2 separate regions of the Homo sapiens genome follow, and region 1 is linked to region 2. The links come from fine-mapping of genetic effects on plasma protein levels. A gene starts in region 2. The other region holds a variant in brackets. All regions are shown on one strand. Distances are between the middles of the regions.

Region 1 (10,712 bases), 88 kb before region 2:
GGAAAGGAAAAGTATTTCAGGCAGAAGAAGTTGCATATGCAAAGGCCCTGCAAGTGTGAAGGGCTGAAGGAAGGCAGACATGGTGAGGTGCAGGGAGCTTGGGTTGTGGTGTGAAGTGGCAGGGGCTCATAAGCAGGTTAGTTTGGTTTTTTATCTAAGAGAAATAGATGTCCTTTGAAAGCTTTAATCAAGGGAGGATGACTCGACCAAATTTGCCTTCAGGAAAATTCAATGTAGCTAAAAAGAGGCCAGGGAGGAGGCAGGGAGAACATTTCAGAGGGTTGCTTTTTTTTCCTCCCCGCATTAAAATCATCCTCGAAAAGAGACTGGGCAGATTTATAATAGCATTAGAATATTTAAAACATGTAATACATTTGTTTAACTTCAAACACATTTCAGCATTCTCAACATACAAAAAATAACAGAACATTACAAATCGTGTTTAAATACAGACGGTTCTTGAACTTTCATTGACGTGATGTCTCTTGCTTTGCTGATAATGAGGAGTTCTACAGTTTGTTTAAAAACAGTTTTCTGCTGGGCGTGGTGGCTCATGCCTATAATCCTAGCACTTTGAGAGGCCGAGGTGGGCAAAGTGGGTGGATCACTTGAGCCCAGGTGTTCGAGACCAGCCTGGGCAACATGACAAAACCCTGTCTCTACAAAAAAATACAAAAATTAGCCTGGCATGGTGGCAGGTGCCTGTAGTCCCAGCTACTCAGGAGGCTGAGGTGGGAGGATCACCTGAGTCCAGGGGGTTAAAGCTGCAGTGAGTCGAGGTCACGCCACTGCACTCCAGCCTGGGTAACAGAGTGAGACCCTGTTTCAAAAAAAAAAAAAAAAGTTTAAAAATTACCACACTTAACTAAAACAAACAAACTAAACCCCCCAAACACTTCTCATGCCGGCTGACCCTCTTTGTCCACAGCTAAGAATGGCAGCAGAATGCTCCGTCACTATATGCAGAAACAAGACAACTTGAAGCTAAATGGAAGCCCTGCAGAGTCAACAGGTCCAGATTCACAGTGCACGCCCTGAGCTACAGCCCCTCCAAAAGGCATCTTCCCCCAGAGCCTCAATGCCAAGCAAGGAGCCGTCAAGAGTCTGCCTTGGTTGTTTTGTTCTTTTTACAAACCGTACAGATATACAATTGATAACTCAGGATTTCTAGTCAATAACCAGATAGTTAACACCACCTTATTAAAAAAAAAAAAGCCAGAAACATCTTTAAATGCCTTGTCACTCCAATAGCAAAGCGCACAGAATGAGAACACAAGAGTGCCTTTTCATTTTAAAAATGTTTGGAAATATGTACAACTTTGATAGCATTTCAGAGTGCACCAGACACCACTGCCGCTTCATGTATACCACTGACAATTTCTAGAGCACTTTGAGAGGCTACAATATGATCATGATCAAATTTTGTAATTAAACCTGATAAGGGCAACAGACACTACTTCTCAAATAAGAGATGTGTCAATTACAGCGCTCCCCTACTCTAAGGCAGGGGTGTCCGATCTTTTGGCTTCCCCGGGCCACACTAGAAGAAGAATTGCCTTAGGCCACACATGAAATACACTAATAATAACGATAGCTGATGAGCTAAACACACGTGCGTGCACACACACACACACTGACACACACTTCATAATGTTTCAAGAAAGTTTACGAATTTGTGTTGGGCAGCATTCAAAGCTGTCCTGGGCTGTGTAGGCTACAGGTTGGACAAGCTTGCTCTAAGGTACTTACAAGGAAACAGATAAACTATGTTTAAAATTTCTTGCCAGGTGTGGTGGCTCACGCCTGTAATTCCAGCACTTCAGGACTTTGGGAGGCCGAGGTGGGGGGATCACTTGAGGTTGGGAATTCGAGACCAGCCTGGCCAACATGGCGAAACCCCGTCTCTACTGAAAATACAAAAATTAGCTGAGTGTGGTGGCATGCGCCTTTAGTCCTAGCTACTTGGGAGGCTGATGCATGAGAATCACTTGAATCTGGGAGGCAGAGGTTGCAGTGAGCAGAGATTGTGCCACTGTACTCCAGCCTGGGAGACAGAGCAAGATTCTGTCTCAAAACAAAACAAAACAAACACATAGCATAAAATTTACCATCTTACCCATTTTAAGTGTACGGTTCAGTACAATTAAGTACATGCATGTTGTTTTGCAACAGATCTCTAGAACTTTCTCAATTTGCAAAGCTGACACTCTATGCCCATTAAACAAATCCCAGTTTTTCCCTCCCCCAGCTCCTGGCAATCACCATTCTTCTTTCTCTTTCTAGGAATGTGACTACCCGAGGTACCTCACATAAATGGAATCATCCAGTATTTGTTCTTTGGAGACTGGCTTATTTCACTTAGCCTGATCTCCTTAAAGTTCATCCATGTTGCATCATGTGATAGGTCATTTAGGAGGTTTTGCAGGAGTCTGAGTAAGAGCTGATGGGGGCTTGGACTAGGGCTTGGAGATAGAGATAGCAGGAAATAGAGTCGGGGAGATTGGGGAGTGGTAGAGTCACAGGACTTGGTGAAGGATGGGAAAGTGCTCCTGTTTCTGGCCTTGGTCTTCAGAGGTGACTGTGGACAGGCCAGTGGTACCCAGACTTGTAGGCTCCTTTGGACAATGGGGGTTGGGGGTGACCCAGGGGCTAAGTTGGGTGCAGAGGAAACCAAGGAAGAACCTCTTCTCTATCCTCAGCCCACAGCCTGGGGGAGACCAGAGGAGGAGAGCAGTGAGCAGCTGCTCTGGCTTCTTTGTTCCCCTTGTTTATTCTTCCTACAGAGCACAGACCTTGCAGCACCAGAAGGGTGGTCTTTATGGCATCCCTGATGAAAGAGGGGAGGAGGTGGGTAAAGTTCTGTGCTGTGTCCCTTTGCAGATACCACCAGGCTGGGCACCCCACGGGCTCATACTGCTCTTTCTGGTCTCTTTGATCGTCCTCGGAATTGTAAAGTCCTTGCCACCTAGAGACTTCCTCCCTGCTCCCATCTACCCCAAGATGTGGATGATTTTCCCATTGAAGAGGAAATTAAAGTGGAAAGAACCTTGCCCCGACTCCCTCCAGCCTGGAGGCAAGTCACTTCTTTCCCAGTGATGTCAACAGTGAACAAGGGTCGAGTGTCTGTGGAAGGCAGTCCCCACGTCAGACCTGGGATGCCCTGAGCAAACACGAGCTCCACCCTCAGAAAAGCAGATGTCTAGATGTGGCCGTCATGTCGATATGAACAGGTGTAGCGGTGGTTCACGAAAGAGGGTGGCTAGTTCTACCTGGTGTTGGGGCTGGGGTGAGTTGACAGAAACAGCTGCCGAGAAAATGAGGTTTTCTTGAGACGTGTCTTGGAAAATTATTTTTATCAGTTTGGAGGAAAAGAATCTCAGGGTGTGGAGGCAGATACCAGAATTACAGGCAGGGGGAGCAGCCTAAACAAAGGCAGCGAGACGGGAAACAGGCCCTGCCTTCAGCTTGCTGCCAGCCGAGATCTGCCCAGAGACCAGCAGGGACCAGAGCTATCAGGACTTTGGCTATTATCTCTGGCTATGGAAGGGATGGGGCTGAGGGAGGTGACACACTTCTGGCAGGGAAGCCATTTAAATGGTGGTCAGCTGGAGATAATTTTAAAGAAATTCCATATAGCACTTACGAGACACTCAATTTTGCGGGAGCCATACAAGTGTTAATTCATGTAATATTCACAGTCATCTTAACGGGGTCAGTCACCATCACGATCCCCGTTTTCCAGATGAGAAAACACCAAGCAACATCTTACCCGAAGTTGCACAGAGGCTGGGGATGGGATTTGAACTGGGTGGTGGGCTCCCCTCTTCTCTGCTGTTAACCACTGGGCTGTGCTCTGGGCCAGCCAGCTCTGAGCGCAAGTGTTAGGGACAGGGCTGGCGGAGGTTAATGAGGGAAAATGGCCAGGAGTTGGCTTCAGGAAGGGAGGCAGTGGGTGAGGGTGGAGCCACAGCAGGCTCCCAGAGGACGAGGCACCATTCACTGATCTGTGGAACTGGGAAAGGCCTCGAGGTCCTCAGTCTTCCTGTCTGTGAAATGGGGACAAGAACACCAGCCTCAGTGGTAGAAAGAGTGGTGTGAAGGTCCTTTGTGCACCCAGGGTGCTCTGTCAACGTAGCCTGGCCCTGCTGCCTCACCCCAGCCCTGCCCACTGGTGCAAGCACACTCACTGTCCCCTTTGTCCCCTTCTGGCTGCCTCTGAGGGATCCTGCCCCCTGGGAGTTTCTTTCTCTGTCATTTCCTGGAGGAGCTAGAACTGGCTTTGAAACCTGCCTGGCTCTTTAGTGGGAGAGAGGTAAAAGCAGTTCAAGGGATGTGGGCTGGAAGTATTTGGAAATGCAGATGGGCCACACGAGCACCTTTTATTTTTGTTCAGAACATCTGAGTCTCCCCGTGGGGACTCCCCCGCCCAGAGTAGCTCCTCCCCCCATGGCAGAGAGGATGAGAGAGCACCCGGGGGCTGCCATGAGCTCAGGGCAGGCAAAAGCAAGGCTGTCGCTCTCCTGCCCCACCCCTACCAAGCCACCAAAAATAGAAGGGCCAAGGTGTCAGCCCCAGGGAGGGGCCAGCCGGGGAAGCCTTTGAAGCCGGAAACAGCCGGGGAAGGAAGGCTGAGAGAAGCAAGTTTGTTAATATTCACTGGGCAGCAGCGGCAGTTGTCCCTGGGTTTTCTGTTTCCAAGGCAAGCAGACATCACCAGCCTAGCTCAGCAACTCCAGGGCCTGTGAGGCAAGGCCTGGGCTTGGCTCGTGACTTGCTGTGTGACACTGGGCAACTGGCAACCCTTTCTGGGTCTCTGTTGTCTCATCTGTAGCATGAGGGATTGTGACTAGATCACCTCCCGGGTTCCTTCCTGCTGCAGCGTTCCAGGACTCACACCTTTGGCCACTGACCCCTGCCCCACCTTCTGAGTGGGGTTCAGGGACTGTGCTGAGTCTGTCTCTGGGAAGCAGCAGGGTGCAGGGGCACACTGATGAGTGGTGCATGTGCCCAGGGGCAACATCAGAGCCGTTTAGCCACCAGGGCAGTCAGGCATGGACAGACGCATTTGGGAGGGGGCGGGGCCCTGTGTCAGCTGTTAACACTTCAGTTCCTGAAGCAGAGAAGTCTGGAGTTCTGGGGAGGGGCCAGGGAGGCAGGAGAGGGAAACACTGGGAGGGTTTAGGGCTTGGCCTGTTTATCAACTACTGTGGAAGTATTTTCACTGTTCTGACAATCCCTGCAACTATGTCCATGGACCTGCTGTCTATCCGCCCTGTTCATCGGGAGGAAGAGATGGAGAAGGCTGCCGGGGTTCTGGGAGTGGGTTTCTAGTCCTTCCCACCATCGGAAAAATTCTTGTCACTCGGAGTGGGGCCAGGTCACTGTTTCCCCTGGGTCCAGCCCCCAGGACCCCTGGCCTGCCACCCTTAGGACACCCCTTCTTCCCTGGGGCTGGGGAACAGTGAAGGGAGGCTCTCCTCCCACTCCTTTGCCCACAGCCCCCGTGGCTCCACTTGCCCAGCAGCTGTCCTGGACCACAGGCCAGGTGGCCTCAGTTCCTGGCTCCTCTGTGGCTGCCCCCTCTGCCATCTGCCCACCCCCACACAGGGCCCATTTGGCTACCCTCCCTTATATCCCACATCCCCTAGGTGAGGCCCTTTTCCATCCCATTCCAGCCTGGCCTGTAGGGGAGAAAGTTGAGATGGGGTTGGAGGGTGGGGTCAGCCAGAGCAGGTCCAGCATCAGGGCAGCTGCGGGGACCGGGGCTGGGTTCTTGGTGCAGGGCCCCCACTCTGCTGGCTGCCCCGACTTCCCTGTGCAGCAATTTCAGTTTCTATTTTGAACAGTTTGGGTTGGTTGCTTCTCTGTCTTCCTGCTGGGTGTTTATAGTGAGGAAAATAATTGGTAATATTTGCACAGATGTGCTGGCATTGCAGCTCGTCACGGGCACCTTTACCCAGGGGACCCTCCCTGCCCCCAGCCTGTCTCTGCCAGCCTGAGGAACCAGCCTGAAGGGGAGTAGCTGAAGCCCCTATGCCTCCCAGGGGCCTCAGGCAGCCAGACGCAGGCAGAGCTGGGAAGCAGGAGGCCTCAAGTGCCCCAGGCATGCCAGAGGCGGCCCTAAGCTGGAAGGGGGTGGGTGGGTGTCTGTGCTCCAGGGACTGATCAGGACAAGCCTGGGCTCCAAAGGATGGATCCTTTCTAGGGGCTGCATGAGGGAGGCCCCAAGGGCTTCGTTTCTTATTCCATTTTCTCCTACAGAGCCTGAATTTGCAGCTGAGGGTAGGGATGGGGTGAAAAGGAGAGGGGCAGGTCCAGGGTTGAAAATAGAAAATTGTGGCCAGGCGCTGTGGCTCACACCTGTAATCCCAGCACTTTGGGAGTCCGAGGCAGACAGATCACCTGAGGTCAGGAGTTCCAGACCAGCCTGACCAACATGGTGAAATCCCATCTCTACTAAAAATACAAAATTAGCTGGGTGTGGTGGCATGTGCCTGTAATCCCAGATACTCGGGAGGCTGAGGCAGGAGAATCACGTGAACCTGGGATCCAGAGGTTGTAGTGAGCCGAGATCGCACCATTGCACTCCAGCCTCGGCGACAAGAGTGAAACTCCATCCCCCCACCCGCAAAAAAAAGATAGAAAATTGTTTGGCTTCTCTTTCCCCTTCTCAAAGCCTGGAACAGCATTTCAGAGGGCTGGCAAGGAGGTGAGAATTGTGGACCATGAGGCTGCCCGCCCAGCCCAAGCAGGGCATGGACCAGGGTGCATGCTGCCCAGTGCCCTTTCCGGGGCCCCAGCCAGGCTGGTGATGGGTGGGACCACAGCGCAGGCAGGGCCAGGTGAGACTCCTCAGCCACCATGCCTCCTTCTCTTCCTCCTTTTTTAAAAATAATCTCTCTCTCTCTCTCTTTTTTTTTTTTTTGACAGGGTCTCACTGTCACCTAGGCAGGAGTACAGTAGTGTGGTCATGGCTCACTGCAGCCTCAATCTCCCAGGCTCAAACGATCCTCCTGCCTCAGCCTCCTATGTAGTAGTGGGACCACAGGCATGCACCATCATCCATCACGACCAGCTAGTTTTTAAATTTTTTTTGTGGAAATGGGGTCTCACTATGTTGCCCAGGCTGGTCTTGAACTCCTGGGCTCAAGCAATCCTCCTGTCTCAGCCTCCCAAAGTGCTGGGATTACAGGTGTGAGCCTCCTTCTTCACCTCTTGTATGTGCACATGGTGCATGTGTGTGTGTGTGTATGTGCATACAGCTTTTGTGCATGTGTGGGCTGTGCCTGTGTACATGTGCGTGTGTGTGCACAAAGGTTTGCGTGGTGTGTGGCTGTGCCTATGTGTATGTGTATGCCTGTGTGTGGGTACATGTATGTGCAAGTGTGTGCATATATATGGAAGATGTACATGTGCGTGTGAACGTGCATGCTGTGTGCCGGGGTTTGGCTTCTCCCAGAAGCCAACCCTGAGACAAGGGTTCAATTGTAGGCGGTTTATTGGGGGATGATCCCAGGAAGCACAGTTGGGGAGTAGGGAAGGAGGCAGGGTGAGGAAATCAGCCAATGAAGGGCATGTATCAAGCAGAGTGCTGCTGCAGGCAACTGAGCTCAGGCCCACTGGGGAGCCCAGGGAACCTGTGTAGAACACGACTGAAGCAGCCTTCAGTGTGAAGAGGTGAATGCAGAGGGGATCTAGGTGGGCACCAGGGCGTCTGCTGCTGGGTGGGTGGGTGTGGTGGACGTGGTGATATGCCACTCAGGATCCCTTCAGGAAGGATGGACAGCTTTCCAGCTGCTGCAGGTCCTGGCAGCAAACAGTCTTCAGGGCAAATGTTTTTGTGTTGTCTCAGCTGAAGACCACTGCCTTGCCTGAGGTCACACCCTCTTTCTGGGTGGCCCACATCTAATGACTGGTCAATGAGGGAGTGGAAAGACCTGGCTCTTCACCCCAATTTGGGTCAACTCTGGCTCCCCTGTGGGTTGGCCCAGCCTGTCATTCAGGACTGCATTGCAGCCTGACCTCTCCCTCTGCCCAGATCTGCCTCCCTCTCCATGCTTTTACAAACGTTATCCCAACAGCAGCCCCTCATATCCATCTCACAGGCTAATCTCTGTTTCTGGGGTTCGCAACCCATGCAGCATGTGTGTGTGCATACGTGCACAGCTGTGTCTTACAAGTAGGTGCACACGTGGATATGGGATGTGCATAACCTGCCTCCCCAGGGCCCTCCATCCAAGTGACCTAGAGGCCAGGCCAGTCCCTGTGCTGGCCCAGGCAGGCTCCTGGGGGCTCAGGTCTGAGAGGATATTGGAGATTTGGTGCTGAGCTGGGGCCTGAGGCAGGCAGAGATGCCTTCCTCTCCACATGGTCCAGGAGCGGCTCCTGGGATGGAAGAGATGGTGAAGGAGCAGGCAGCAGGGGCGTGGACTCCTTGGCCCCCTCACACCCTGTATCCACCCTTGGTAGCTCCAGGCAGCTCCATGGAGCCTCAGTCACCTTGGCTCACATCCCTTCCTCCCTGTCCTCCAAGGCTCTTGAGCCTAGAAGGGCTTTTTTTCCAGGCACGGATCTTGCTTTGGCTTGCCTAGAGCAAGCCAAATGCAGGCCATCACTCTACAGCCAGACTACTCCAAGCAGAGGAATCCTGGGATGGTGCAGACACTCTGGCCACCACTCCTCCTAAGGCCC[A/G]TACGTGGGCTTGTCCTCTCCGCAGGCTGCCAGGGGTCAGAGCAGCAGACATAGCAACAGGTCAGTCTTGGAGAAGAATGGGATTCAGGCAAAGGCGGGGCAGGTAGCACAGCAAGATACCTAGAGGGCACCAGGTGTTACAGAAACATTTATTACAAGGATAAATCAGTACAATAATGGGACCTTAAAACTGCTGTGATGCAGGAGTGGAGGGCTGGGCAGTGCCCGAGGCAGGGGAGGACAGTGGGACAAGGGATGCTCAGTGGTGGAGCCACAGCCCTGGGCTCTGGATGGGGCATGGGAATGACCAGGTTCCCACATCATGCACAGCAGGGGCCTGTAGCTTGAGTCCAGACAGGCCTGCCCACATTGGTGCTGCCCCCCGCCTACCTGGAGATGTCTCTAAAATTCTGGATGTGCCCTAGTGGCTGAGGGTGTTGAGACTGGCACTGAGCAGAGATATCAGTGAAGATGCCCCAGGGGTAACCAGGTACCCACCACTGACCCCCTAGCATTCAGAGATGGGAAAACATCATTGGTCTTTGAGAGACAGGTGTGACGTTCCTCCTTGAGTTGGCAGAACCCTTAGGAATGGCTGTAGTTTGGCTCCAGCCCAGATGTTCCAGGCAGAATCCAAACAGCCTGGAAGCTTCCCATGGAAGGTTCCTGCCACATCCCTGCCTACAAATACAAAGAGTTATGTGACCAAATCCCTTAGATGAATTCTATTCATCCTAGGACTTGCTCAAGGGATACCTCCTCCAGGAAGCCTTCCTAAGCACCGCTGACTACTCAGCAGGCCATTCCTTCCCTGAGTCCCTTCCCTCATCTATACTCACTACTCCCTAGGGTCTCTCCTTGCTGCGTTTTCTGTAGGGCTGGACCTAGGGCCGTGCGCTCAGTGGCTGGTGAGCTGAGGGCACTCTCTGGGTCTAGTCTACTTGTGATGGCACCAGCTCACGGACCCCCAGGCAAAGCCCAGAAAAGGATGATAGGGGCGGGGAGTGGGGGGAGAGTAGGAAGAGTCATGTAGTACAGCAATATTTCAGGACCCTCTATTCTCTGTCATTGCAACTGCCTTTTGCACCCGCATGAAGAAGCTCCAAGAACCTGCCCTTGGTTCAGAGTTTACATACCGAGGCTCCTCTTCCCTATCTAGAATCTACAGTGCCTCACAAGCCCATGCAGAGATAAGCACCCTCTAGAATCAGAGACAGCAAGAGGCCCCCTTGCCTCCACGTATTTCCTTCTTGGCCTGCTGAGGTCTGGGCATGATGGGGCCAGACAGTGGAGTTGGGGGAAGCTCAGGCTGTCCCCAGGTGAAGATCCCTGTGGGCTGAAAGGATTGGGACGGGTCCCCTTGTGCTCTGGGCACCCCCTTTTCTCCCTGTAACCTCCTGCTCTTTCTCTGTGGGGAGGTTGGCAGGGTAGGTGGTGGGCTGGCTGTAGGGCAGGAGATCCTCTAGGGAATGGGCAGAATGGATGGAGCTAGGCCCTGCTGGGATGGCCTGGTGGGCAGCCCTGCCTTCTGTTTCCCGTCTGTAGCCTGGGTTAGAGAGTGGCGCCCCGGGCCCTGCTCTGGGGCTGGGAGCAGCGGGCAAGCAGAAGTGAAGGCTGAGCTCTGCAGGCTGTGGAATGGGGGTCTCCCCCTCAGCAAGCCACTCTCACGGGATCATCTTCAGGGGCCGGGCCTTTCCATAGGGTCTGCAACTCCAAGCCCCACTGCTTCCTCAGGTGGGCAGGGGAGTCAGGATGCAGGCCCTACTGGCTACTAGCCATGACCGTTCTGGGACATGTAAGCTGCCAGAGCCACCACCACAGCCACGTAGAGACCGGCCCCCACGGCGATGGCGAGTGTGGCTAGGAAGAGGGCCCGGCGGGAGGTGGTGCTGGCCAGGCGGAAGTCCCCTTTGGAGATGGCCTTGCTGGTCTAGGGAGAGAGACATGCTGATGAACAGGAGTGTCCCCACACCCAGCCAAACAGCCCAGCCTGCCAGGCCCCTGACCCCATCCTGCAGACG
Region 2 (8,232 bases):
AATTAGAAGTCAGAATCTTGATTCATCTTGCTGCTAAAATCATAGCCTTTAATTCAGATGATAAAGAAGCTAGTTGGTTTTTTGATCAAGAGAAAGTTAATATTTGTCAAACTAAATAATATCAAGACCATATCCATAAATGATCATATTAAAGGAATTAAACTTCAATCAGAGAAATTCCAAACATTCCTAGAGTCTTATCTCGCATTCTTAATGGTAAGGGTCACAGTTTAAACTTAAACCTTGAAGACGTTTGCTTCAACCTTCCTTTGGATGAAAATATTCCTATTTTCCCTTTCTTTTTCTAGCATATAGATTAGCATGTAAATCTGATGAAAGTTGTTCACTACAGGAACAACTACATTTTTTTTTTTTTTGAGATGGAGTCTTGCTCTGTCACCAGGTTGGAGTGCAGTGGCACAGTCTCAGCTCACTGCAACCTCCACCCCCCGGGTTCAAACCATTCCCTGCCTCAGCCTCCTGAGTAGCTGGGACTACAGGCGAGTGCCATCATGCCCGGCTAAGTTTTTGTATTTTAGTAGAGACAGGGTTTCACTATGTTGGCCAGGATGGTCTTGATCTCCTGACCTCGTGGTCTGCCTGCCTAGGCCTCCCAAAGTGCTAGGATTACAGGCGTGAGTCATTGCACCCTCCCTGTTTTGTTTTTGTGGTTTTTTTTTGTTTTTTTTTTTTGAGACAGGGTCTCACTCTGTCACCCAGGCTAGATGCAATGGCACAATCTCAGCTCACTGCAGCCTCAACCGTCCCAGGCTCAAGTGATCCTCCTACTCCATCCTCCTGAGTAGCTAGAACAATAGGCATGCACCACCACACCCGGCTAATTTTTGTGTTTTGTAGAGACAGGGTTTCACCATGTTGCCCAGGCTGGTCTCAAACTCCTAGGCTCAAGCAATTTGCCCACCTTGGCCTCCCAAAGTCCTGGGATTACAGGCATGAGCCACCGCACCTGGCCAAAAACCGCACTTTATGCGGAAACAGCTAGAAAGCAAATGTAGAGCCTGAAACTCCGCGGAGGAAGATCAGAAATGAATTACAACATCTTTCTACCTCAAGTTCTACATGAGCAAACACTGATTGAGGGAGTCTGCTATTATTGCTTGGAAAGTCTGCCAGATCCCAAAACAGACTGAACCTTTCTTGAATCTGGCTTCAAGAGTTTTTAGTTCCTGAATCATTCATTTTTAGACTCTATGGAAATTGTACCTTGACTAGCAAGAATGAAGGAAAGCAGAGGCATCTGAAGAAAACATCTCACAACAATGGTATTTATCATCCTTGTTTTAGGGGTTAGAAACCAGAAGAGCAAAGATTACTGAGATTTGTCCAAGGTCACATTGCCTGGAAGGGGCAGATCGAAGACTCAATGGGTGGGCCTGACTTGGAAGCCCTTGTTACCGGAACCTGAAAGAAGCTTTAAATACGCAGCCATGTTGATGAATGGAAGGACACCCCAAGGAAATTTGCATCTGAGAACTACTTGAGGACTCTGGATGAAGGTCTGTCTCAAACTCAACTTTTCAGGTTTCTTAATTCAGCATCGCCTCTTTGCCCCTCACCATGATTCTCTTTCTATCGTAGAGGTTCAACCCCTATATCCTCTGTGATTTTCAGTGATGAAGTATCTTCTATCCAGATTTTGTACCCTTTCTCCCAAACTGCTGGTAAATCCTTTGCCCAGTATTTTGTCTTCCTGGAATCCCTTCTTTCTTTCACCCCAACTTGACTTCCTAGAGAAATAAGCAGCACTATTAAAGGTATAGGTAAAACGATGAAAAGTGTCAGAATATCAGTCTTGGCTTTTAAAATTAGGCTGATTCAAGGGTGGGCATGGTGGCTCATGCCTATAATCCCAGCACTTTGGGAGGCCAAGGCAGGTGGATCAAGAGGTTAAGAGTTCGAGACCAGCCTGACCAACATGGTGAAACCTCGTCTCTAATAAAAATACAAAAATTAGCCAGGTATGGTGGTGCTCACCTGTAATCCCAGCTACTCAGGAGGCTGAGGCAGGAGAATCGCTTGAACTGGGGAGGCAGAGGTTGCAGTGAGCCGAGATTGCGCCACTGCACTCCAGCCTGGGTGACAGAGCAAGACTCTGTCTCAAAAAATAAAATAAAATAAAATAAGACTGATTCCAGAAGCCTACTCACTTCCGAGTAAGCAGACTATGGAATTTAAGAGGAACTACCACTTAACACTGAACAGAGGAGTGACCCTAAACAGAAAAACCACCTACCATCTCTGAACTAGGAATGACCCTTAAGAGAGGAACTACCTCCCACTTCTGAATTGGGAACTGCACCATTTTCACTGCACTTCTGCAGTTTCTTCAATGATTTAGTCCTGTTCTTTAAGGCCCACTTATGAGTCATGAAATATTTTGGCTCCAAAAACAACAGGAAGTACCTTAAATCTTGACTAAGGTTGTTAAGATCTGGATTTTTTCCAAGAATCAAGGGGATGAAGAGGAGTACAGAGGTTAAGGTCTTTATAGTTTCAGTACAAGCTTAGGGCACAAGTTAAGCTTAACTCCAAATAGCACTGACTCACACAGCCAAGATGGCAGAAGTGCCAGCTGCATTAAAGAAGAATACTGCTACCTGAGTCTGGGTTTCATTTCCTCTGAAATATTAACTTGGCCTAGGTCTATATAGCTGCTGGGAATGATACACTTGCAAATACTGCATATGTTAAAAACATAAGGATGAGACCTAAGAAGGTACTAGAAAGAGTCAGAAATAGGATTTATCCCTGGGAATCCTCAAAACAAATACATATTTTTCAAAATTAAAAAATTTAAGAAAAGAAATTGGATTCATCTGACTTGTCCAGGTTGTTTCTAAGTAGTTTCAAAAACTGATTTTAAGCACACATCTGCAATCTACAGATGTATACTCGATTTTGGGAACCTGCGTTCTTAAAATAAGTGTGTGTGTGTGTGTCTGTGTGTGTATGTATGTATTTTAATCTCAGTCTAACCAAGGACAAAAGTACTTGTATACAATAAATGCTTGACCAAAAAAGGTTTAAATAAAGCCTTTAAAAATCCCATTTCCTCCTGCCCCAGAGACTGGGCAGTTGAATGGGAGAGAATGCAGGTGAACTGCCTGATAACAGTGCCTGTAACAGGGTAAGTTAAGTTCTGCCATTCAGCCATCATTGCTGAGAGGCAGACTCTGGTGCCGGATGCCTGGGTTTGAAATCTCACTATCTCTGCTACTTACTGTATAGCCTCAAGGCAAGATACTTTACCTCTCTGGAGATAATGGTGTAGCTGAGCTAACACAAATACAGATCTTAGGTAAGTGTTTGGAACATAGTGATACATATATTTACTATTATTATCATATCTGGATTTAGTCCATGAGTTTAATCTAGAATAGCTGCTCCTGGGTAGGTTAGCAAGTTCCCTTCTGACACAAAAACTGGACCTCTCACCTCAAATATACTTTGTGGATAGAAATTATGTTTCTAGCCAATAGGATGGACTCTTTCTGTCTCAAAAGTGGAATGCATGAAGACAGAGGCAAACTGCAGGTTGAGAGTACATTATCTGCTATGCAGTCAGTCACCAGATTAGCTCAGTACTATAAAAGTATGATATGAACTCAGAAATCTAAGTAGATGTTCTTTGCTGCCTGTACCTACCCTTGGGTGGAACAGTCTCTTTAACTATCATCACACTGACCAACACTGCTCCAGCTAGGTCAGTAAATAGTACCTTGCAGTCCTTTATCCCTCAGCTTGCTTCTCCATCATTGCAAAGTTCTTAAACTGCACACACTCTTAAGCATCCAAAACAGTTTGAGAAACACTCTCTTCCACTCCAACCCATTTTTGGTGAATAGGGAAAAAAGAAATCCCGAACTTCAATCAACAATCTATTGAAAATCAGTGCTAATGTTAAGGCTTTCAATGTCCAGCTTCCACCTGCTTCTTTCAAGGCTGAGTCACATAATCTAGTAGGAAGTAAGTAAAGGGTAGTACTTATAGCTCTTTCATCCAGTTTTCTGATGACAAGAGGTTCTTAGACTTCCAGTGTCAATAGAACAAACTCCTCTGTTCTAACCAGCAAACATTACAAAATTAGTTTGCTTGGTCCACTTTCTCACTTGAGGAAATCCCACGCCAGGGAAGGTGGGTGTAGAGTGGAACACAAAAATCTTTGATGTGGGCACTGAAGTCTTTATATCATATTTCCCAATTCAAAAGTAAATTATAAATCTGTAACTGAAACCCTTCTTCCCTTTAAAAGCTTCTTCCCATAGGTGTACTCCTGCTTTTTCAAATAAGTAGAATAATTTCTGGATTTATTTCCCTTCTTTTTTTGGAAACCCAAAGTGGCTCACAAAGACCCACGGTTTCCTACCACTTACTGGGTGTGAGATCTTGGGCAAGTTACTCTATGTGCTTCGCTTTCCTCATCTGTAAGACAGCTTGTGAGGATGGAATGAGTTATTTTATTTTATTTTATTTTTTTGAGACGGAGTCTTGCTCTGTCGCCAGGCTGGAGTGCAGTGGCGTGATCTTGGCTCACTGTAACCTCCACCTCCCGGGTTCAAGCGATTCTCCTGCCTCAGCCTCCCGAGTAGCTGGGACTACAGGTGCACACTACCATGCCCAGCTAATTTTTGTATTTTTAGTAGAGATGGGGTTTCACCATGTTGGCCAGGATGGTCTCAATCTCTTGACCTCGTGATCTGCCCGTCTTGGCCTCCCAAAGTGCTGGGATTACAGGTGTGAGCCACTGTGCCTGGCCGGAATGAGTTATTAAAATTAATAGTGTCTTCATCCAAACGCTGGCTACTAAGTTTAATGGAGGGAAAGGCAGTAATTTGAAGCGATAATAGCTTTCAAGTGCCAGTCTCCTAAATCAATGGAATAGCATTTAAGTGTTAATCGGCCAGCACTCCATTCCTTAATCAATCCTGTCCCCTAATCCCCAACTTTGCTTTTGTCTCAACATGAATTTTTATGACATAGGGGAAAAAGATTTCCATCTATGTTTTCAACACATTTCATTGAGCAGTTACTATTACCTGGGCACTGGATATAAAGCAGCAAACTTATGAAACCGCCTTTGCAAAAATCCTGAGGAAATTAAGACAGTGAAAGAGATCAGGACTCACCTACCCATCTTCCTTCTAACCTCTAAACTGTCTTTGTTCATTCCTGGGTGTAGGCTGAACTAGTCTTGGAGAGGAATTTATAGTTTAAACTCTGAAACGAAATGGATAATAGCCCTTTCCTGAAAAACCCCTTCTTGCCTGGGGACCGGTCTGCCTTTGTAGGACTAACAAATTAGCTACGAGTTTAGGGGCCACGCCGCCTCTGGCTGTAAGAGTCTGAACCTCCCCAAATTGCTCCTGGTAATGATATCACTATTGTAAAACCTAAGGTCAGTGCTTGAGATATTTTGCAGATCCTGCATTCCGATGCAGCAAATGACACCACCCAGAGGTCAGCAAGAAGAACTCACTTCGACTCTCCTATGATTTTATCTTCAACCTGACCAATCAGCACTCCCCACTTTCCAAGCCCATACCCGCCAAATTATCCTTAAAAACTCTGATCCCCGAATGCTCGGGGAGACTGATCTGAGTAACAATAAAACTCCGGCCTCCCCCACAGCCGGCTCTGCGTGAATTACTCTTTTCGCCACTGCAAATCCCATCTTGATAAATCCGCTCTGTCTAGGCAATGCGCAAGGTGAACCCCTTGGGCGGTTACACTTACTCTGGCTCCCCATTCTGCTGCGTGACTTTAGGTAGGCTACCCAACATCCCTGGAATTCAATGATTGATTATACGATCTCCGTGCTTCCTTTCCACTCATAGATCTTACAAAGTCAGTTTCATGCCTCTTTCATTGACAGTTCTATCTCTCTATCTCCACCTCTGAACAACATTGCTCGAGTTTCTGTTCCGACAATTCTATAGACTCGACTCAATGAAGGCACTCAGAATTTCTACCACCTGTTGTATTTTCCAACAAAGATTCCAACCACAGCGGCGAGAGGGAGTTATGTATCACAAGCTGTGATTAGAGACACAATGAGATTTATACAAGGAAAAACTGATTAAGAATCACAAGATTCCAAAGCCCAAAGGAAGTCCTATTTGTAACAATAAATGATGAAAAAGGGGAATTGACTTTTGACTTGTCAGCAAAAACGAAATTAAAAGAAAAGCAAAAGGAGTTGGAAGGGGGAGGCGGGATTCCAAGATACAAAGCATAAATAAAAAGAAGTTCTGTGCTCCACCCCTCCACCAGAGCTGGATACAGCCCTTCTGTTGTCCGCCCTACAAACTTTAGGAAACTTCAGCAAAAGGCCCACCTCCTGGAGTTCCCAGGAACCCCAAAACACGCGTTCTAAGGAAAGAAACAAAGTTGTGCGCGGTCGGGTTTCATGGAGGCCGGCGCCTTCTCCCCCGACCCAGCCCATTCCAGTTAGGTAGGGTCCAAGGCTCAGCCTGGCCGCCCGAGGGATCCGCCCAGCCCAGCCCCAGGGGTCTCAGCGCGGGGGTCCGGCGGGGCCTTCCACAGAGGGCGCGGGAACCTTGGGCGGGCCTGGGGCTCACCGCAGTCCTTGAACTGCACCGGTTCGGCCTGGGCAGCGGTGCTGAGCGCCAGGAGCAGGAATGTAGCTGCCAGGAAACGCATCGCGGATAACGAAGTTCCAAGCTCGGGAAAGAAGCAGCGGCCGCCCGCGGTCACAAGACAAACCTGTCGGGGCGGGCCCGGGGAGGAGCCCAGTCAGGCGACCTGTCACCAGTAACCACAGCTGAGGCCCGCCCGCGCCCCGCCCCCGGCTCCGGAAAGCCAGCTCCAGCCCTCTCAGGCCCAGAAGCCTGCAGTCTCCGCCCATGCCATCCCCTCAGAGGCCTGACCCGCCCGGACCCACCTCCGCCCCGCCCCGCCTCACTCCTCCCCGCCCCGTTCCTTCCCTTTAGAGCACCTCTCCGGCTTCCTGGGTGCGTCCCCGCCGCTGCCGTCTGGAGCATTCCTAGCCAATCAGACACCTTCTCCTCCCGCACTACCCAATAGGCATGTTGGGGGGGCGGGGCCTCCGTGAAGTCCCGGCCTCCTGTTCGTTCTCTCCGCCTCCCGAGGCCCCGGGTGAGAAACGGGGGAGACGCGAGGGGCGGAGCTTGTGGAGGAAGATGGCTGCCGCCTGGGGGTCGTCCCTAACGGCCGCGACGCAGAGAGCGGTCACTCCCTGGCCGAGGGGCAGGTACCAAGACTAGAAAGGCACCTGGAAAGGGTGTTTGGTTCTGCGCCTCTAGGACAAATGGGAAACTAAGGCCTGTGGGGGATGCGAGGGTTTGGTGGGAGGCCGTCCAGGTGGGGGTCGCCAGGTTTAGCGTGAGGCGCTCCAGGTCGAGGGTTGCAAGGTGCCCCTTCTGCTCCCGGGCTCACCCTCCTCCCTTGCGCGCAGGCTCCTCACGGCCTCCCTGGGACCCCAGGCGCGTCGGGAGGCGTCGTCCTCCAGCCCCGAGGCCGGCGAAGGGCAGATCCGCCTCACAGACAGTTGCGTCCAGGTAGGAGGCCGGACGCGGAGCGGCGGTACCCAGGCGATTGGCGGGAGCAGCGGGAACTGCTCTTCACTCAGCCCTTTAACTCCCGTTTCCCGCTATTCTTGATCCCCCTTCCTGCATTTCAGAGGCTTTTGGAAATCACCGAAGGGTCAGAATTCCTCAGGCTGCAAGTGGAGGGAGGTGGATGCTCCGGATTCCAATACAAATTTTCACTGGATACAGTTATCAACCCCGACGACAGGCAAGGAGGAAGGGGTGGGCCCCCAAAGGAGGTACAGGAGGGACAAAAGTGTCTCCAGTTTAAGGTGCACTTTTATTCCAAATTTAAAGGGTTTACCTGGGATGGTTAACACCGCCCGTCTCACAGTGAGGATGCAGTAAAGGTTTGTTGTTCTGAATCAAAGTAACTAAGTTATAGGAGCAAAATTGATCTGCCCAGGTCCATTGGGTAGTCGGTAGAAAGTCAGGCCGGACTAGATTCCAGGCTTAAGTCCCTACACGTTTCCCAGTATTTATTCCATTGAATCATTTTGCCTCAAAGAAAATCAGCACCTGTTAAAGGTAATGGGGAAGCTCCCTCTGTACTTTAGAAAACAGAGGATGTGCACCTCTGGGCTCAGGGGGTGTCTTTTTTGTGTTTGCGATACTCCTTAATGCCTTCCTCCTGTCTTTTCAG

Alleles and levels. Alleles are on the strand shown, and positions count from the first base shown. The strength of an association depends on the size of the effect and on how common the allele is.
In carriers of allele G in region 1, the plasma level of the protein whose gene starts at base 6,712 in region 2 tends to be lower than with A alone (strong association).

What was found. PIP is the chance, under the fine-mapping model, that this variant and not a neighbour inherited with it causes the effect. Protein levels are from antibody-based Olink assays in UK Biobank. Linkage for the fine-mapping came from a reference panel and not from the study's own genotypes, which makes the PIPs less certain.
Region 1: its variant is fine-mapped to the plasma level of the NPC2 protein (UK Biobank, PIP above 0.99).

What each region holds. Positions count from the first base shown.
Region 1 is chr14:74,397,073-74,407,784 of GRCh38, forward strand. It overlaps SYNDIG1L (synapse differentiation inducing 1 like), which reads right to left. Exons shown (of 4, transcript NM_001105579.2): 4 at 8,827-10,621. The coding sequence ends at 10,463. Among named protein-coding and RNA genes, the nearest start is that of SYNDIG1L, 24 kb to the right of the region's middle. RefSeq lists enhancers at 4,480-5,389, 4,607-4,936, 10,066-10,567. The variant A/G (reference allele first, on the strand shown) is at 8,692.
Region 2 is chr14:74,486,594-74,494,825 of GRCh38, forward strand. NPC2 (NPC intracellular cholesterol transporter 2) reads right to left here and starts at 6,712. Exons shown (of 5, transcript NM_006432.5): 1 at 6,600-6,712. The coding sequence starts at 6,681. It overlaps ISCA2 (iron-sulfur cluster assembly 2), which reads left to right and starts at 7,172. Exons shown (of 4, transcript NM_194279.4): 1 at 7,172-7,252; 2 at 7,457-7,559; 3 at 7,682-7,797. The coding sequence starts at 7,182. RefSeq lists enhancers at 1,197-2,396, 7,175-7,254 and silencers at 6,465-6,524, 6,695-6,974.